Homo sapiens: one gene and its partners. The protein of the gene in region 5 interacts with the protein of the main gene of each other region in a pairwise test. Each region holds a gene or a part of one and is shown on either strand. Other genes may lie near its edges. The genes, in order: CLSTN3, CFH, ZBTB5, CORO2B and RSPH1.

Region 1 (4,139 bases), on a different chromosome or scaffold from region 5:
TGAGAAAGTAAGGGAAGATAAAAGTGGGCTCAAGGAGGGGAATGGTCTCCACTGAAGAATGGAGATTGAGTCAAGGATGCCAGAAAAGGACATGGCCAGGCAAGGGTTAAACACATCATGATTTTGTCAGATCTCAGGTCTGGAGGCTCTGGGAGGTTGCTGCTCAGGGAAGCTGGGCTTAGAGTTGCGTGTTTGATCATTAATGCTTTTGTGCCTACAGGAGAAGGGACAGGGCTTTGGGAGGAGAGGTGGAGCTGGACCCCAGGTGGGGAGACTGAGGGTGGGGAAGGAGACACAGCAGCCTCACTCCTCCCCTTCTCCCCTTTGCCAGGTGAGATCTGCGGCTTCCGGCTCCATGGGTCTGGGGTGCCCTTTGAGGCTGTGATCCTTGACAAGGCGACAGGAGAGGGGCTGATCCGGGCCAAGGAGCCTGTGGACTGCGAGGCCCAGAAGGAACACACCTTCACCATCCAGGCCTATGACTGTGGCGAGGGCCCCGACGGGGCCAACACCAAGAAGTCCCACAAGTGAGGAAGTCCTTGTCTCCTGCCCCATGTGTTGCAGGGTCCTCCTCCCTGCTCCCAAGCCCACCATCCTCTGTCCGTGCGGTCATCGAATATCCACCCCCACCCGCTGCTGTTCCTAGGACTTAGGGAGCCCCATCCCCTGCTGTTCCTAGGATTTAGGGACTTTCAGGCAAGGTGACAGAAACGTATAGTAGAGTTCAGTGGATCTAATCTTGGCTTTGCCTCTCATGACCTTGGGCAGCCTAGCCTTTCTGGACTTGCTTTTCCTTATCTGTAGAATGGAGATTGTGATGACACCTACTTCATAAGGCTGCTGTGAAGATTCAAGGAGATGGTTTGTGTTGAAAGCATGCACCACAGTGCCTGATACACGTTGAAGGGCACAGTACATGGGCATAATGATGAGGAGGAGAGCAAGAAGGAAGAGGATGAACACACTCAGCATGCATCCAGTTCCCTTTCAACTGCCCCCTCCAGTCTATTTGCAGTGTATACCACACACACGATCCCTATCATACACATATAGCTCTAGGTGAGGGTGGGCAGGCGATGGTTGTAGCAAGAAAGAGGCTCGGGTCTGGGACACCTACGCTTGTTGCCAGCTAACTTCTTATTTGAGAATAAGAGAAAGATCTTCAGTCAGGATTCCTGAGCCACTAAGAGGCACTAGAGATAAAATGCTCTTTGTGACTCAGTTTCCCATTTGAAGATAGGACCCTTGCCTCTGGGGCCTGGGAGCCTGGGTCTTGGCCTGGGGCAGGGCTCAGCATGAAGGGCCTCGACCCAGCTCTGCTTGCCCCGGTGCATGACTAGGGAGGGGCCGCATGTGCGGGAGGCAGCACTGCCCACACGTACTGTGCAGACATGTCAGATGACTTGTGACCTTTGTACACATGCCATTTCCCTTCTTATGGCTGGTTTTAATTTGGCTTTTACTCTGCATCTTCCTTGCTTATCCCCCCGGATCTGACTGTTGTGAAGGAAGGCCCTGCTGGATTTTATGCCTTACCCCTCCTCTTGGCACCCTGACCCATAGCATTTTGCACAGAAGTCATCAAAATCAGCTCCTGAGCACCCCTGGGCCTTGTTCCTCATCCCCTACATCAGTCCTCCTTTCTTTGGGCCCTCCCTCTGGTGTTGTCCTCTCCCTGGCATGACTTTGATGCAGCTTGGTGCCCTGTGGGGTGGGGAGGAGCGTGCTGACTGCCTCAGTCTCAGGGATAGATGGGCAGGCTCCCTCCTGTTCTGGCTCTCCGTCGGGATTCCTGCTTGCTCCTTTCTGGCATATGGGTGTACCGTGTCGAGGCTGTACCTTGGTGTACAGTATAAGGCTGTATCTCGTTGTGCCCATATTGAGGCTGTTTGTTGGTGTACAGTATTGAGGCTGTATCTTGGTGTACGGTATCGAACCTGTCCCTCCATGTGCCGTATCAAGGCTGTATCTTGATGTACCGTATCGAGGCTGTACCTCGGTGTGCTGTATCAAGGCTGTATCTCAATGTATAATGTCGAGGCTGGCTGACGTGTCTTCATCCCTCCTTCTCTCTGGCATATGCAGGGCCACTGTGCATGTGCGGGTCAACGATGTGAACGAGTTTGCCCCAGTGTTTGTGGAACGGCTGTATCGTGCGGCTGTGACAGAGGGGAAGCTGTACGATCGCATCCTGCGGGTGGAAGCCATTGACGGTGACTGCTCCCCCCAGTACAGCCAGATCTGCTACTATGAGATTCTCACACCCAACACCCCTTTCCTCATTGACAATGACGGTGAGTCCACCCCTGGCTTCCCTGGCCACCCAGTTCCCCTTGAGCACCCACCTCCCTCAGGACAACCCAGGGTTGCATTCTCCACTTTTGCCCCTCAGACCCTCACCTCACCCTTCTTCCCAAATGGAGCCTTCTCCTCCCAGATGCCTTTTTTCCCAGCGTCCTGCTGCCTAACCTGCCTGCTGCCCGATGATCTCAGACATCCTCCCCTCCCTGCCCTGGGCTTTCTCCAATGCTCTAATGCTCTGTCCTCCTGACCCCACCCCAGGGAACATTGAGAACACAGAGAAGCTGCAGTACAGTGGTGAGAGGCTCTATAAGTTTACAGTGACAGCTTATGACTGTGGGAAGAAGCGGGCAGCAGATGATGCTGAGGTGGAGATTCAGGTGAAGCCCACCTGTAAACCCAGCTGGCAAGGTGAGAGCTCAGCGCTGTGCCCCATCTTGTGAATCATCTTTTTTCTTGGTCTCTCTTTCTGTCCTTTCTGACAATCATGGGGGCCAGGCTAGGGCTTGGATGATATTGGGGCAGGCTTGCAGCTATCTACTCTAGCCGGGCCATCCTGCCAGGAGCCCCAAACTGTCCATGGACATGGCAAGAGGAGCATGGAGAGGGGAGGCTGCTTTACCCTTCTCTCTCCCCATCACCCTCTCTGTCTCACCCATGCAGGCTGGAACAAAAGGATCGAATATGCACCAGGTGCTGGGAGCTTGGCTTTGTTCCCTGGTATCCGCCTGGAGACCTGTGATGAACCACTCTGGAACATTCAGGCCACCATAGAGCTGCAGACCAGCCATGTGGCCAAGGGCTGTGACCGTGACAACTACTCAGAGCGGGCGCTGCGGAAACTCTGTGGTAGGTGTGCCCCCAACACTGCCTCAGGCCTATCCCTTCCCATCCAACCTCTGTCCAAACTTTTCCAAGACTCTGCTTTACATCACCACTGGCCATCCACAGGTGTTTATCCATAGAGGTTGTGACACGATTAGCATTTGCGGCCCAAAAGGCAGGTACATATGTCTTTGGCAAAGATGCATAGTCATCGCACCAGACAGTCACCGGATGCATGGTGGAACAATGGTAGGGCGAGATGAAGAGTTGGAGAATGGGTTAACTGGAGAGATACTCTTAGAAGTGAGTTCATCCCTCTCTTGTCTTTGAAAGGCCATAAAAGGTGGCAAGACGTGCTGTAGGAAATCTTTTCCCATCAGTCCCTCTTTCCCTGCCTCCTGCCCTTTTCACCATCTGCTGCTTCTTGGCTCTGACACTTGTGCCTCCTGGGGCTCCCACAGGTGCTGCCACTGGGGAGGTGGATCTGTTGCCCATGCCTGGCCCCAATGCCAACTGGACAGCAGGACTCTCGGTGCACTACAGCCAGGACAGCAGCCTGATCTACTGGTTCAATGGCACCCAGGCTGTGCAGGTGCCCCTGGGTGGCCCCAGTGGGCTGGGCTCTGGGCCCCAGGACAGCCTCAGTGACCACTTCACCCTGTCCTTCTGGATGAAGCATGGCGTAACTCCCAACAAGGGCAAGAAGGAAGAGGAAACCATCGTATGTAACACTGTCCAGAATGGTGAGCCTCCCCTCCAGGCACTAGCCAGAGGGGGAAACTGGCTTCTTGTCCCGCCTCTGTCACTGCCCAGTGTGTGACTGTGAACAGGTCACTTCCCCTCTCTTCATTTGTGAGGTGCAAGTGCCAGGTGTGATATGCCTTGATTCTGTGCTTTATCCCCAACATGACATGTTGGATCGTACTGCTGTCAGAGTGCAATGGGATTCCTTGCTGCTACTCTTGTTTTCAGTTGCCCAGTCAACTTCTCTGTGTCCCACCATGTGGTAGGCT
Region 2 (4,139 bases), on a different chromosome or scaffold from region 5:
TAATGTCTTTTAAGTTCTTCACAGTGTCCAGAAAAACAGAAAGGTATTAATGAGCTGTGACAGTTTTCTTAATAAGTCATCTTGCTTAAGTCAGCATTCCCAGTTATTGAGTCAAACTAATCTAAATGTTGGTGAGAAAATATGTTGCCAGATACACTCCCAATCAGTTGACTTTAAACAAGCTGATCATTCTAGGTAATCTAGATAGGCCAGATCAAATCATTTGAAAGGTCTGAAACATAGGGCTGAGGCTCCTCTGAAAAAGAGAGGGAATTCTGTGGAAAGCAGCTTCCTTTCCTGTGAGTTCCATCCTGTCTGTAATCTTCCTTTTCTGACTACCTGCCCTGTGGATTTCAGACTTGCTTATCTCATGCTCACAATTCCTTGAGGCAATTTATTTAAAAAACAAAACAAAACAAAACAAACAAAACAAAACCTCTTTTTAAGTAGGTAGATAGGAGATTGGTATGTCAATCAATTAATTGACTGATAGATAGGTAATCTTCTACTTCTACTTAAGCTTCCCGCATTGAATCCTGAGTGATAAATTATTATTAGACTTTAGTAAGTTAAGAAGGCATATGCTATGCTCTGAATACATGCAACCTCCCCACAACCCCCAATTTATATGTTTAAACCTAATTACCAATGTGATAGTATTAGGAGGTGGGGACACTGGGAAGTGATTAGGTCGTGAAGGTGGAGCTGTCATGATTTGGGATGTGTGCCTTTATAGAAGAGGCACCACAGAGCTGCCTTGTCCCTTTCATCATTGGAGGACACAGCCAAAAGGCACTGTCTATGAACCAGAGAGCAGACCTCACCAAACACTGAATCTGCTGGTACTATCTTGCTGTTAGACTTTCTAGCATTCAGAAGTGTAAGAAATACATTCCTGTTGTTTATAAGCTAGGCAGTTAATAATATTTTGTTGTAGCAGCCCAAAGAAAAAAGTTTTAGAAGTGCCCATTAACATGGTGGAACAAATCCATATGAAAACATTTTGCAATATTTCATAAGAAAGAAAACACCATATAAAATTATATTTTACAAAATAATGTGAAAGTTTTTATGGGCACTAATTTTCCCTTGACCTTTTTGCAAATTTGTATTAGTGAACTCATATAATATGTGATTCCACATTGCACTATTTCGATGTTTATAATTTAAGTAAACATATTCTACTCCACTAGATGGTGCTAATACTCTATCATAACAACACAATCCCCGGCCCCTTCCGCACAAAAGGAAAACTGATTAATTACAAGCTGATATGTTTGTTTTTCACTTTCAAAATTTAGATCCATTTGATGATGTTCAGGTTATTGGAAAAAATAAATAAGTAAAGTAATCCATTAACACAAAAAAAGTTTAGCCCGCTCACTTCCTAGTGAGAAGTAAATGCTTTCCCTTCTGGTTATTATTATATTTCCAGGTGATACGTTTGTGCCCCTAATTCTTGATTTCCAAATATAGTTCATTGCTTTTAACAACCAGATGTAGAAAACAAGGATACATCTCTTCCACAAAATCTTCCTACCAACTTCTCACAATATTTACTCTGTGAATATGTTTACTATATATAAAGAATTATCATATTGATTACCTTTTCTCTTCAAATAGTACTTAAAATTCTGGTGCTTTTTCCATCAGTGTTAAATGGCATCTTTTGATTCTGCTTGTAAGAAAAAGATATGACCGCCCCTGTTCTATTTTCCCTTGCTCCTACTACCATCTTCAAAATCTTAGTTCAGATCATCATCTGTCACTTTGGTCATGAAACTTGCCTGCTAACTAGCCTCCAGTCCTCTACTCTCCTGTTACTTCAGTCTATTCACAGAGTGACAAGTGATTCTTGCAAATCTGGTCATGTCATTCCTGTGATTAAAATTCTTCTATGACTTCACTTTTTACTTATCCAGCATTGCTAACTCCTTTCCTTGGTTTGGGAACCCCTTATCTGGCTCTTGCCACTTTCTCGGATCTCATCATGTTAAATCTCCCATGTATTTACTGTGCAAAGTCACGCTGATTTATTTGTTTATATTTTGTTGAGCATTTCAAACTTATTTTTTCCTTAGATCCTTTACACGGGTTATTTCCTCCTCTTAGAATAATTTTACGACAGATTTCTGATGACTGGCTTTGTCTCATCTTTCAGGCCTCTACTCAAATGTTCTGTCCTCAAAGTGATCCACTCATTCTAGTCCCCAAGACCAAGCCCACCTAATGTCTCTACATACTACCATCCCCATCTCTATTTTCTCTTAGGCCCTACTTTACCTCCTTCACAAAATTTTTCACAATGCTATAACTATTTTTGTTCATTAGGTTTTCTATCTATCTCCCCACATCAAAATGTAAGCTCCCCACAATTGAAGAACAATGTTTTTCATAGTTCGTGGAAGAATTTTCATTAATGTCTAGGTCTTCTCACTTCAGATACACTTTCCTGTCTGCTTTTGTTCTAACCATTATTGTATTGAGTATTATTGAGATAGGAGATGGGACTTGGACACTGGACCAAATTGAGGATTATCCAAAACAGGTCTGAGTGGAAGCCCCTCCCTGTAAGACACACAGACCAGTGTGCTATGACAGTTTACCATTACCATGGCAACACCCAGAAGTTACAGGCCCTTTCCACAGCAATGACCCAACAACCGGAAGTTACCATCCTCCTCCTGGCAATTTCAGCATTAACTACCTCTTAATTTCCATATAATTAAAAGTGCATATAAATATGAGTGCAGAACTGCCTCTGAGCTGCTACTGTGGGCACACTGCCTATGGGTAGCCCTGCTTAGCAAGGAGAGGTGCCTCTGAGGCTGCTATACACTGCCACTTCAACAAAAATTGCTGTTTAACACCACAGGCTCACCCTTGAATTCTTTACTGGACAAAACCAAGAACCTTCCCAGGCTAAGACCCAATTTGGGGGCTTGCTGTCCTACATCATTATCAACTCATGCCATAGCAAAAGTATTTAAGGTAATGATTCACTGCACTGAGTTCTAATAATAATTAGGTATATCTTGTGACATAACTTTTATTTGCCTGAATTGACTAACAATCGAATGTTCAAGCTCAGTTGAACCACCTTCAAGTAGACAACAAACGGTTATTTTGGCCCAAGTAGTCAAACTCTCAGCATGTATGTACAACGGGCTTATTAAATAGGATGCATACAAATTGAAAGGCACAGAAACATTTTTTTGAGATGTGATTTATCTTAAAACTAAAAGAAATAGCCATCTCATTTTTCTCATTCTAGATTAATGAGTAGACTAAGCCATCATATCTAAGTATTTGAGTTTAAACAATGAATACTTCATCTTACGTTTACAAGTCATTTAATTGCCAGTTAATTTTGTTTACAAAACACTACATTGGTGAAGCTTTAATTCATTTGGCTTTATTTTACAATTTAAAATTAGTTTTAGTCTGGATGCAGTGGGTCATGCTTATAATCCCAGCACTTTGACATGCCAAGTCAAGAGGATCAATAGACCCCAGGAGTTCAAGACCAGCCTGGGCAACGTGGTGAAACCCTGTCTCTACAAAAAATTTTAAAAATTACCTGAGCAGGCCGGGCGCGGTGGCTCATGCCTGTAATCCCAGCACTTTGGGAGGCCAAGGCCGGCAGATCACCAGATCACGAGGTCAGGAGATCCAGACCATCCTGACTAACACTAACACGGTGAAACTCCGTCTCTACTACAAATACAAAAAAATAGCCGGGCTTGGTGGTGGGTGCCTGTAGTCCCAGCTACTCGGGAGGCTGAGGCAGGAGAATGGCGTGAACCCGGGAGGCGGAGCTTGCAGTGAGCCGAGATAGCGACACTGCACTCCAGCCTGGGCGACAGAGCAAGACTCCATCTCAAAAAAAAAAAAAAAAAAAAAATTACCTGAGCAAGGTGGCTGTAATCCCTGCTACTTGGGATGCTTAGGTGGGAGGACTGCTTGAGCCCAGGAGGTCGAGGCTGCAGTGAGCCATGATTGCACCAGTACGCTGCAGCCTGGGTGACAAAGTGATTCCCTGTCTCAAAAAAGTAAGAATAATACTAAACAAAATCAAGTTTTTTTTTAGCCCATGAATTAAGAGTGTGAATACGTTTAACTACTGGTAAAGAGTAGGA
Region 3 (4,139 bases), on a different chromosome or scaffold from region 5:
CTTCCCACTCCATCCCCTTTCCAGCTCCCCATCCATCCCACTGAGAGCCACCTCCATCATCCAATAAAATCCCGAATACACCATCCTTCAAGTCCATGTGTGACCCAATTCTTCCTGGATGCTGGACAAGAACCCAAATACCAAGAAGGTACTGAGCTGGTTAACACTTAACCCATCTGCATATGGCAAGCTAAAAGAGCACTGTAGCATGCCCAATGGGGCTTCGGGAGCTGCAGGCACCCACCCCTAGATGCCACCGTGGGGCCAGAGCCTAAAAGAGCTTGCCCCAGCTCCTGCCCCTGCCTGTCTCTGTGCTCCTCCTCCTGTAAAGGGTTTTAGCAGTGGTGGCAGCCAAACAGACGAGCCACATCATTGTCACACGTCCTGCGAGGGGGGTTCAGAGAACTCTCCCATTTCATCAGCAGAAAAATAACTAGACAGAACATTTCCTCCACTTGTAGAGACGATATAGATGAAAACAAAAGTCAGAGAGCAGAACAAAGCAAGGACCCACTCAAGTAGGCTAGGATTTTTTTTTTTTAAATACAGGTGGGGTCTCAATATGCCCAGGCTGCTTTTGAACTCCAGCGCTCAAGCAATCCTCCTACCACAGGCTCCGGAAGTGCAGGCTAGGATTTTTTTTTTTTTCTTTTTTTGAGGCAGGATCTCACTCTCTCACTCAGGCTGGAGTACAGTGGCCTGATCACGGTTCACTGCAGCCTTGACCTCCCAGGCTCAAGGTGATCCTCCCACCTCAGCCTCCTGGGTAGCTGGGACTACAGGTGCGTGTCACCATGCCTGGCTAATTTTTGTATTTTTTGTAGATAGGGGGTTTTGCCATGTTGCCCAGGCTGGTTTCAAACTCCTGGGCTCAATCAATCCACCTGCCTCAGCCTCCCAAAGTGCTGGGATTACAGCCGTGAGCCACCCACCCACCTGGCCCAGGCTAGGAATTTTGACAGGGCTCCAAGTCAGACAGAGCGGAGTACTGGAACATCCATCCATTGTTCTAATTTGACCAGCAAAGTGGGAGTAGGGGAAGGCTGGAACTAGGTGGGCACAATGATGCCTGGGTTAACCCCAAGAAACCAGACCTGTCAGCATGACTAATGTCATAATATCTCTGGTTCTGCTCTGTCAGGGTTGGCTCAGAAACTGAACAGATTAGTTCTATAAAACAGGAAAATTCCACTAGTGACTAAAGATGAGCATGACTGAGGAAGGCGAGCTGGAAGCCCTGACCATCTCACCTAACTCTCCAATTCTCTCCACATTGCCACCTTGTTTTCCAGGCCAAAATCCCTAGGGATGAATTGACCTAGAGCTCTGTAACTCAGTTTGAATAAGAAAAGGTATTAGTGCCCTACTTAGGTTCCTAGTACAAGCTCAAATGCTTTTTCTACTAAAACAGCTTATTGAGGGCAGGAACTGTATTTTCTCTCTCTCAAAGTGCCTGACATAAAATACTCAGTAAATTATTTGCTGAATAAACTTTTGCTATATATGGATGAAGTATAATGTATTACCCAAAAATCACTTTTCTGAGAATCACAACTATCTCTAAAATCAGCCAAAAACCAGAAGAAAAAGTCTCAGAATATCCAAAATAAAGATCAAAGACTATGGATGAAAGATTTTCTCATAGGAAAGTCCCTTAAGCCCTCACACAGTCTTTTGTTCGAAACAAAATTCAAGTTTTTCTAGTTCCCTAACTAACTGAAGCAGCAACTCCAGAATGAGAGCAAGGAGTGGCTGCTTAAATGAAGTTAAGCTGATAGCTGCAGAAAGAGACAGCTGACCCACTAAGGGGGAAAAGAGGCCCAGCAGCTTGGAGCTAGGTAGTATACAGCTCAAGGGACCTCAACAGCCCATAAAGGTACTTGTGTATTTTTTGTATACAAGTTCATTCATGTAATATGTTTTTTGTTTTGTTTTGTTTTTGAGACAGAGTCTTGCTTTGCCACCCAGGCTGGAGTGTGGTGGTGCAATCACAGCTCACTGTAGCCTCCACTTCCCTAGCTCAAGTGACTCTCCCACCACAGCCTCCCAAATACTGGTACTACAGGCACGTCACCATGCCCAGCTAATTTTTTATTCTTTGTAGAGACGGGTCTCACTATGTTGCTCTGGCTGGTCTCGAACTCCTGGGCTCAGGTATTCCTCCTACCTTGGCCTCCCAAAGTGCTGAGATTACAAGTGTGAGCCACCATGCCAGCATCATCTAATGTTTTAAAGTGCTTACTTGTTCAAGGTTAAGCGCTGTGGAGCATAGATTTGTATGGGACAGTACTAACTGTCACAGGTATTTAGTGGAAATAAGATATACATGAATAACGATATTACAAAGTGGAAGGCACTAAGTGCCACATAAGAGGTGAAAGAACCTCTCAATGGTTTGGAGAAGGCAAAGGTTATTTCTAGCTTCATGGTAGCGTTGACAACAGAGCTAGGTCTTGGTTGGATTTGGACAAACCCCTAGACAGAGGTAAAGGTGGAGAAGGGGTTGAGGTGGGTAAAGCAATGTATTCGATTTGGCTGGAAAATAGTATGGCTAGAAAGGTAGGTATTGGATAGTGACTGCTCATAACTGATGTTAATAATTACAAGTCATCAGAAAGGTTAACCATGAGGCACATACTTTTGAACTAAAGGCTATCATCACTTTTGAGATTACTTTCTTAAAAAGTATTTTAGGGTTTTTTTCTTAAGTTTAAGCAGCACATCAGCCAGAGTCATTGGTTGCAGCAACAAAAATTGATCCTAAACATAAAAGTAATTTACTGAAAGGCTATTAGTTTGATCATGGAATTGATGGGAAGGCTGGATACGTAAGATTGAACTGGGAAGAAATTAAGCTAGGCAGCAGGAACAATCAGGTCAGAATGCCAAACATCTGTGCTGAACACAGCTACTACTAACCAAATGCTCACTCCAATGGAGACCCAGCCTCCCCTTCCCTACATCTGTTATTAAGTCTCAACTCTTGAGTACCTGTTTTCAATATGTGTGATAAAATGGGAAGTACACCTGAAGTTTTCCTCCTGCATTCTGAAATACAAGTTGCCTCAAGAAAAAGCACTTGTGCAGTTTTTGAGGTGGCTCAACTAATTGCTTTTCTCATGGGACACTATTTTTACTTGAAAGAACGAATGACAAACTATGGTTATTTAGAAGTATTTACCATTTTCTTGAAAATGAATGAAAAAATGAATGAAACAAGCCTGTTATTTTAAATAAGATAACTTAGTACTACTTATTGCCAATAAAAAAGTTTGAGAATTCAGGTGAAAATTAGTATTTTGGAAAACTTGTATCTGTCACTGTGAGCTTGACAGCTTCCCACATGCTCAAATTCTTCTGACAGATCATTGGTGATATTAATGAAATGTGATTTTTTTACATTGTATAATAAATGAGTCAACGTTTGGAAGATCTGCATAACTCTGAAATCAGTATTTTCCAAATGACCATGTAGCCATGTAACAATAATGCTATAAAACAAGGTATGGGTAAAAATTCATTCAAGGTACAAAACATAAGCTAATGTATTTTAATGCAACAGAATATGAAAAGTTCATTGACATAATTTCAGATTCCACATTGCACTAATCACTTAAGAAAATACCACTTGTGGAGTTTTGGTACAGTATCAGAGTAAGAATATCCAAAATTATCTGAAAAATCTACTGAAATAATCCTCCCTTTCCAACTACATATTTGTGTGATGCTGGAGTTTTTTGGTATATTTTAATCAAAATAGTGTATCACGGCAAAATGAATGCAGAAGCATTTAATGGAATCCAGCTGTCTTCTATTAAACTACATATTAAAGAGATTTACAAAAAATGTAAAACAGGGCATGGGCATGCCAGCCCCTGCTTCTCAGCCTGTACTCCCAGCACTTTGGGAGGCCAAGGCAGGTGGATCACCTGAGGTCAGGAGTTTGAGACCAGCCTGACCAACATGGAGAAAAGCCGTCTCTACTAAAAATACAAAAAATTGGTGGGGCGTGGTGACACATGCCTGTAATCCCAGCTACTCGGGAGGCTGAGGCAGAAGAATCGCTTGAACCTGGGAGGCAGAGGTTGCAGTGAGCCAAGATCGCACCACTGTACTCCAGTCTGGGCAACAAGAGCAAA
Region 4 (3,796 bases), on a different chromosome or scaffold from region 5:
AATGCTTTTCTTTACCATTGTATTAATAGATGTATTATTACATCTATAATAATACATAATAATAGATGTATAATAATACATAATAGATGTATTATTACATGTATTACATATATTATTACATTATTATTGCTAATTTATGTATTTATTTATTTTTGAGACAAAGTCTCGCTTTGTCGCCCAGGCTGTAGTGCGGTGGCATGATTTCGGCTCACTGCAACCTCTGTCTCCTGGGTTCAAACAATTCTCCTGCCTCAGCCTCCCGAGTAGCTGGGATTACAGGCATGTGCCACCATGCCTGGATAATTTTTGTATTTTTAGTAGAGACTGGGTTTCACCATGTTGGCCAGGCTGGTCTCGAACTCCTGACCTCAAGAGATCCACCCACCTCAGCCTCCCAAAGTGCTGGGATTACAGGTGTAAGCTACCATGCCCGGCTTGTGCTGATAATTTAGAACTTTCTAAAATGCTTTGTATCCTTCTCTTCTTAAGGAGGCTCAGGATACAGAATGGAATCTAGCTTTTTCCCTACTGATGAGGAACTATGACAAGAATACCAAAGTTTGCACTGGTCAGGGATTCATGTACAGCTATCCTGGCAGATCTTCACCCCAATGACTCTCTAGCTTAACCCGCCTCCATTTCTCCTGTAAAGCATATTGACAGATGTCCACAAAACGCCGAGCCCTGGAAGGCAGCAGGCTCCTTGAGGCTCCTGCACACCTGAGTTGAATGTTACCCACAGTCAATTGTGTTTGGTCTCAAACTTTCTGGTGTGAATTACATTTGTTATTGTAATTGCATAATTTAATGAAATATAATATAAATTGATGAAATGAGCACAAAAAGAGAGTTGTTGTTTCTATAAAAACTTAATTAAATGCTTTAGAAAATCTTGATAAAGATGATGCTAAAAAAACTGTGGCCGAATTGGGTGTGGAAGATCTAGCCCTAAAAGACTGGAGAATATTCTATATCTTGGCTGATGGTGGCTGCATGACTGTGTGTGTTTGTCAAAACTCTTAAACCGACACACTACAGAGGATGAATTTTACCATAGGCAAATTATACCTCAATGTCTCAAAAAAAGATGAGAGAAAACATTGTAAAAACTAGGACTTTGCTTTCAGATGAACTTTAAATTATTTTTCTACCTAAAAGAAATGGAAACTGGAAATGGGAGTTAAGGTGTGATTTGTGTGAAAGACATGGCAGATTCCAACCAGGGAGGGCCTCCTTGAAGAAAAGGTCCTGGTCCTGCATCAAAATATGCTAAATGAATGTATATGTTTTATTTTTATTATTTATTTATTTGTTTGTTTTTGAGACAGAGTCTTGCTCTGTCACCCAGACTGGAGTGCAGTGGCGCGATCTTGGCTCACTGCAACCTCCGCTTCCCGGGTTCAAGGTATTCTTCTGCTTCAGCCTCTGGAGTAGCTGGGATTACAGGTGTGTGCCATCACGCCCGGCTAATTTTTGTATTTTTAGTAGAGACGGGGTTTCACCATGTTGGCCAGGCTGGTCTTGAACTCCTGGCCTCAAGTGATCCACCCTCAGCCTCCCAAGGTGCTGGGATTGCAGGTGTGAGCCACCACCCCGGCCTACTTTTATTTTTTAGGGATAGAGTCTTGCCATGTTGCCCAGGCTGGACTCAAACTCCTGGGCTCAAGCGATCTTCCCACCTGAGCCTCCTGAGTAGCTGGGACTAGAGGGGTGCCACTACACCTCGCATGTTTTATGTTTAAAACAAAAATAAATGGTTTAAAGAAGGTATCGGCCGGGCACGGTGGCTCACGCCTGTAATCCAGTACTTTAGGAGGCCAAGGTGGGTGGATCACGAGGTCAGGAGTTCAAGATCAGTCTGGCCAAGATGGTGAAACCCCATCTCTACTAAAAATATAAAAATTAGCCAGGTGTGGTGGCAGGTGCCTGTAATCCCAGCTACTCGGGAGGCTGAAGCAAAGAATTGCTTGAACCCGGGAGGTGGAGGTTGCAGTGAGCCGAGATCATGCCACTGCACTCCAGCCTGGGAGACAAAGTGAGACTCCATCTCAAAACAAAACAAAACAAAACAACAACAACAAAGAAACCAAATGTATCTATTGGCTGGGCGCCGTGGCTCACACCTGTAAGCCCAACACTTTGGGAGGCTGAGGCAGGTGGATCACCTGAGGTCAGGAGTTCAAGACCAGCCTGGCCAACATGGTGAAACCCTGTCTCTACTAAAAATGCAAAAATTAACCAGGCATGGTGGTGGGTACCTGTAGTCCCAGCTACTTGGGAGGCTAAGGCAGGAGAATTGCTTGAACCCGGGAGGTGGAGGTTGCAGTGAGTCAAGATTGTGCCATTGTACCCCAGCCTGGGTGACAGAGCAAGACTCTGTCTAAAAAAAAAAAAAAAAAAAAAAAAGAATGTATGTATCATTTTTATGATTCTCTCCTTTTGTTTTTGTTTTTTTGAGACGGAGTTTCACTCTTGTTGCCCAGGCTGGAGTGCAATGGTGCAATATCCGCTCACTGCAACCTCTGCCTCCTGGGTTCAAGTGATTCTCCTGCCTCAGCCTCCCGAGTAGCTGGGATTACAGGCGTGCGCCACCACACCTGGCTAATTTTGTATTTTTAGTAGAGACAGGGTTTCACCATGTTGGTCAGGCTGGTCTTGAACTCTTAACCTCAGGCAATCCTCCCGCCTCAGCCTCCCAAAGTGCTGGGATTATAGGCGTGAGCCACCGTGCCCAGCCATGATTGCCTCCTTTAACTAACTTAAAAAAATATAACTTAAAAAAATATTTTTTGTTAACTAACAAACCACCAGTCCCAGTTACATCTGTTGAGAGGGATGACGTGCTATTTGCCTTTGCACTAAATGACTCTACACACTCTTGCGTCTTCCAAGTTCTCAAAATTTCTTTGCATTGTTTTTTGGTCCACTTTTGTCAAAAAAACCGCTTTAGTGAGGTGTAATTCACACACCATAAAAGTCACTCATTTTAAGCTTACAATTCAGCGATTTTTAGTAAAGTTCCTGAGTTGTACAATCGTAGGACTTTTCCCTCGCATCAAGCTGTCAGTTGTTTCCTCACACTTAGATCAATGCGTCCACCTTTGACAGCCCCACTTTCTAACTGGCTGCTTCCGAACTGCTACGATGATTAAAACTGTGGATAAAGGCAGAGTCAGCAGGCTTTGAGAAAGCTTCTTCCCAGCGAGGAAGATGCACAACTTTGGTGTAGATTGTGGCATCTGTTTTGTCTGCTCTGAGACCCTTTAAGCTTTTCCTCCAGGTTCTCAATTCTGATTCCATAGGCAAGTCTACAGCGAAATATTGCTTGATTTAACTACTATTCAACCCTGCCTTCTCCAGACCCAGTGCCAGAACTGAGCTCAGGCCCTTGTTATTGCCCTCCTGGGCTATCACAATGACCCCTGTGTCTCTATCTTCAAAGAGTAGAGTTCTTTTAAAAACAAGAAAATAGCTGGGCGCAGTGTCTCATGACTGTAATCCCAGCACATTGGGAGGCGAAAGTGGGAGGACTGTTTGAGCCCAGGAGTTTAAGACCAGCCTGTGCAATATAGTAAGACCCTGTCTCTACAAAAATGTTTAAAAACAAATTAGTTGGGTATGGTGGTACACGCCGCTAGTTCCAGCTACTCAGAAGTCTAAGGTGGGATTATTGCTTGAGCCTCGGAGATTGAGGTTATAGTGAGCTATGATCGTGCCACAGCACTGCAGTCTGGGAGACAGGGCAGGACTCTGTCTCTAAAACATAAATAAATAAATACAAGAAAACACTTAAAAA
Region 5 (4,139 bases):
TCACATTGCTGGTGGGAACGTAAAATGCTGCAGCTACTGTAGAAAACATTTGACAGTTCTTCAAAAAGCGAAACAGCATCACCATATGACCCAGCAATTCCACTCCTCGGTATATAACCAAAGGAACTGAAAACAGAGATTCGACCAGATGCTTGCACACCAATGTTCACTGCAGCATTATTCATAATAGCTAAAATGTGGAAGCAACTCAATTGTCCATCAACAGACAAATGGATAAGCAAGAACCTTGAAAACGTCGTGCTAAATGAAAGAAGCCAGACACAAAAGGACAAATACAGAATGAATTCATCTATATGCGACATCTAGAATAGGCAAATTCATAGAGAAAGAAAGTAGATTAAAAGCTATCAGGGGCTGGGGGAGGTCGAATGGGGAGTTGTTGCTTAATAGGTACAGAGTTTCTGTCTGGGATAACGGACAAGCTCCAGAAATGCATCATTCTCACAGCTGCACAACACTGAACGTACTGAATGCCACTGAAAGCATGCTTTAAAATGGCAAATTTCAAACTCTATAAACGTACATATAAAACCATAATTTAAAAAGAAACAGGGAGTGAGCCGTGGGCTGCAGCTTGGCAAGCCCTACTCTAGAAGGGATACATTCCCCTTACTAGGGAGAGAGAACACGGAGGCCCTTCTGTTCCACCACCATCCTAATCCATCCCCACAGCACAGTGGGAGGCCTTCCACAAAGCCCTCAGGTTGTTGCTGCATTATTTCATGGGTGGTTTTTCCTAAACAGCAACAGGACTTGGGGCTTATATCAGTAATTCTCTCTTAGATGTTACTGATGCTCCTTCTACCTTCTTCTCATCATCCTGAAATACTGACTTCTAGGAACTTTTTCCAGTAGAGTCTAAAGCTGCAAAGCACTTAATAAGATGGGCTTTATTTTTATCACTACACAAATGTAAAAACTTGCTCAATCACCAGTAACCCTAAACAGTTATTACCAGTGCTGACAAGATATCAATTTAACCAATAGGTTCCTTCAGGGAACAGATGAGAGGTGTCCAACCCCATGGAAATCCCAGCAAAATACTAAATACCTCCCTGTCACAATCAAATCCTAAAGCCGACTGTCTTTCTTAGGCTTCTGACTATGTGTGTAGGAGGTTACACACACACACACACACACACACACACACACACATAAATGAAGTGGAACCTCGGGGGAGGACAGTATGTCAAATTCCTCTACGTTTTGTTAGATGCAGGTGACTTACAGGAAGCTGCCTTCCACCCAGACTAGAGCACCCTGCGGTCCATGAAGAATTCGTGCTCAGAGGAGGTAGGGCCTCTTACTTAGCAACAAAATCAAGCATTTTGGCCATTTCATTTTCTGGTTTTCTAGGGACCTGCCCCTAGCCAGTGGTTCCTTTTAGCTGGAGCAAAGCAGGAGAAGAGGCAAGGAAGACAGATCACTGTGAGGCCACACAGGATTCTGGTCAGCCAAGAAGGTGGACCATGAGCAACCATGGGCTGTTTGGGGAAACTAAATAACCATGGCCAGAGTGATGTGCAGAAAGTAGAATATCACAGGAGCGGGAATCAGGAAAAGAGGGTGGCTGAGGTCAGGGCCGAGAGCCCCGGGGATGTCCAGACTGTGGCCACTTGGGAAGCAGCAACGGAGCACGGACAGTCACTTGATCATGGGAGGTTAAGGGATAAAGATTCAAAGACTCCCTTTGGTTTTAGAATCTAACAAACTCTAGGAAGAAAAATGAGAAAAGTTAAAAAACTGTCTGGAGGGCTGGGCGCAGTGGCTTACGCCTATAGTCCCACCACTTTGGGAGGCTGAGGCAGTGGATCATCTGAGGTCGAAAGTTTGAGACCAGCCTGACCAATATGGAGAAACCCCGTCTCTACTAAAAATACAAAATTAGCTGGGCGTGGTGGCACATGCCTGTAATCCCAGCTACTCGGGAGGCTGAGACAGGAGAATCGCTTGAACCCGGGAGGTGGAGTTTGCGTTGAGCCGAGATCACGCCATTGCACTCCAGCCTGGGCAACAAGAGCGAAACTCCATCTCAAAAAAAAAAAAAAAAAAAAAAAAAACCTGTCTGGAGAGCATTGAAGAGCATTGAATTGAAAAATTAGTGATGAGTTTAGACTTAGGATTCAAGGCCAGGGCCCTTGGGGTGAAAGGATGGAGCATTAGGTAGAGACAGCAGTGGGCGGCACAGAGCAGGTGCGGGACAGGCCCTCATGCACAGGATCTCCCGCAGCCTTCCAAGCTCCCCACAGTGTGGCTTCTACCTCCTGTGACCAAGGATAGCTTTCCACAGCCTCACACCTGAGCCCAAGGTGACGAGGAGTCGGTTTAAAGCAGGGCCTCTGGGTGATGCCAAGGGCTTGACGAGGGACACAGCAACAAAAAAACAAAACGAGGTGACTTGGCTCAGGTTGTGACATAGTTTGGGTGTTTGTCCCCTTCAAATCGCATGTTGAAATGTGACCCCCGGGGTTGGAGGTGGGGCCTGGTGGGAGGTGTTTGGGTCACGGGGGCAGATCCCTCATGAATGGTTTGGTGCCTTCCCTGTGGTGATGAGTGAGTTCTTGCTCTATTAGTTCACACAAGAACTGGTTGTTAAAAATATATATATATATACCTGGCACCTCCTCCCCTCTTTTCCTCCTCTTTTGAGCTATGGTACCAGCTCCCCTTCACCTTCCATCATGAGTGGAAGCTTCCTGAGACCTCACCAGAGGCCAGGCAGTTGCGGGTGCCATGCTTCTTGTACAGCCTGCAGAACTGTGAACCAAATAAACCTCTCTTCTTTATAATCTACCCAGCTTCAGGAATTCCTTTATAGCAGCACAAAAAGGACTAACCCAGGTTGAAAGGGCATTGATGTGATGGTAGACCCAAACAAGCCGTTCCCCGGCTTTCTTCAGAAAGAAAGTATGCAGACATGGGAGAGTTTGTGTACGATAATATATTCTTAACTCACTAGGAGGGGACACCTCAACAACTTCAGAGACCAAAAAACAAACAAAAGCGTGATTCCACACTCCTCCTTAAAACTCAAAACTTCTTACAGTGAGAATGACCTCATCTAAACAAATAAGTCAAAAGGATCAAAACCAGTACCAGGGTCAGGAAATGTTGCTGAATTGCTAATTATCTAGAGGGATTGATCAGACATTAATAATGAGAGGAATAGGAACACATATATTCCCACCTCAACACACATACGCATCTCGATGCCTTATAACGGCAATATTAGCTGACTAGCTTTACTATTAACCAGGGAATGTCAATGTAGTGTTAATATTAATGTTAGATATTGGAAAGGAAAAAACAAGAGAAAGACTTACCAACGGCACGTTCAGAGGAGCATGCTGCACAACGGACAAGCTAACAGTCACTGGACAAACTGTGGCAACACCAGTTACAGATTCAGTTTTCACTTGCAGGACCTAACACTGTCTAGAACCCTCCCACTCAGGATTAGTTTTTTATTTATTGGTTGTTTGTTTGTTTGTTTTTGAGACAGAGTCTCACTCTGTCGCCCAGGCTGGAGTGCAGTGGCGTGATCTTGGCTCACTGCAAACTCCGCCGCCCAGGTTTAAGCGATTCTCCTGCCTCAGCCTCCTGAGTAGCTGGGATTACAGGCATGCGCCACCATGCCCAGCTAATTTTTGTATTTTTAGCGGAGACAGGGATTCATCACGTTGGCCAGTCTGGTCTCAAACTCCTGACCTAAAGCAATCCACCGCTTCGGCCTCCCAAAGTGCTGGGATTACAGGCGTGAGCCATTGTGCCCTGCCAGGATTAGTTTCTATCAACAAAAACGGTATCTATCAACAAAGTCTAGAGTTCTGCAATAAATGGGAAATGATATTGTTTGCTTCTGGCAATTTAGTTCTGTACTAACACATGCAGATAAGGAAAATGAAAATGTGAAAGTGCCTAAGAGTTGGCATAACTTTTAGGCGAATCACCTCCAACCTTGCAGGATCAATATTTTTGAGCAGCTACTTCCCTGTTAATGTAACAAAACCCTACATGCTCCGCAACTTACCATATCTGTTAAACGATATTCACCATGTTGTTCACACCCAACATCAAATACATACTTTCCAGGGCCAACAGGCTACGAGCAAAGAGAA

Evidence for each region.
Region 1: the proteins of RSPH1 (region 5) and CLSTN3 interact in a two-hybrid assay, tested with the Homo sapiens proteins (one large-scale study listed by BioGRID and IntAct).
Region 2: the proteins of RSPH1 (region 5) and CFH interact in a two-hybrid assay, tested with the Homo sapiens proteins (one large-scale study listed by BioGRID and IntAct).
Region 3: the proteins of RSPH1 (region 5) and ZBTB5 interact in a two-hybrid assay, tested with the Homo sapiens proteins (one large-scale study listed by BioGRID and IntAct).
Region 4: the proteins of RSPH1 (region 5) and CORO2B interact in a two-hybrid assay, tested with the Homo sapiens proteins (one large-scale study listed by BioGRID and IntAct).

The regions. Positions count from the first base shown.
Region 1 is NC_000012.12:7,133,242-7,137,380, forward strand, and holds part of CLSTN3 (calsyntenin-3 precursor), read left to right. Parts: intron 1-331; coding exon 332-527; intron 528-2,085; coding exon 2,086-2,294; intron 2,295-2,562; coding exon 2,563-2,712; intron 2,713-2,964; coding exon 2,965-3,150; intron 3,151-3,587; coding exon 3,588-3,869; intron 3,870-4,139. UniProt on the Homo sapiens protein: Postsynaptic adhesion molecule that binds to presynaptic neurexins to mediate both excitatory and inhibitory synapse formation.
Region 2 is NC_000001.11:196,658,173-196,662,311, reverse strand, and holds part of CFH (complement factor H isoform a precursor), read right to left. Parts: intron 1-4,139. UniProt on the Homo sapiens protein: Glycoprotein that plays an essential role in maintaining a well-balanced immune response by modulating complement activation.
Region 3 is NC_000009.12:37,455,312-37,459,450, forward strand, and holds part of ZBTB5 (zinc finger and BTB domain-containing protein 5), read right to left. Parts: intron 1-4,139. UniProt on the Homo sapiens protein: May be involved in transcriptional regulation.
Region 4 is NC_000015.10:68,721,727-68,725,522, reverse strand, and holds part of CORO2B (coronin-2B), read right to left. Parts: intron 1-3,796. UniProt on the Homo sapiens protein: May play a role in the reorganization of neuronal actin structure.
Region 5 is NC_000021.9:42,478,586-42,482,724, forward strand, and holds part of RSPH1 (radial spoke head 1 homolog), read right to left. Parts: intron 4,124-4,139; coding exon 4,052-4,123; intron 1-4,051.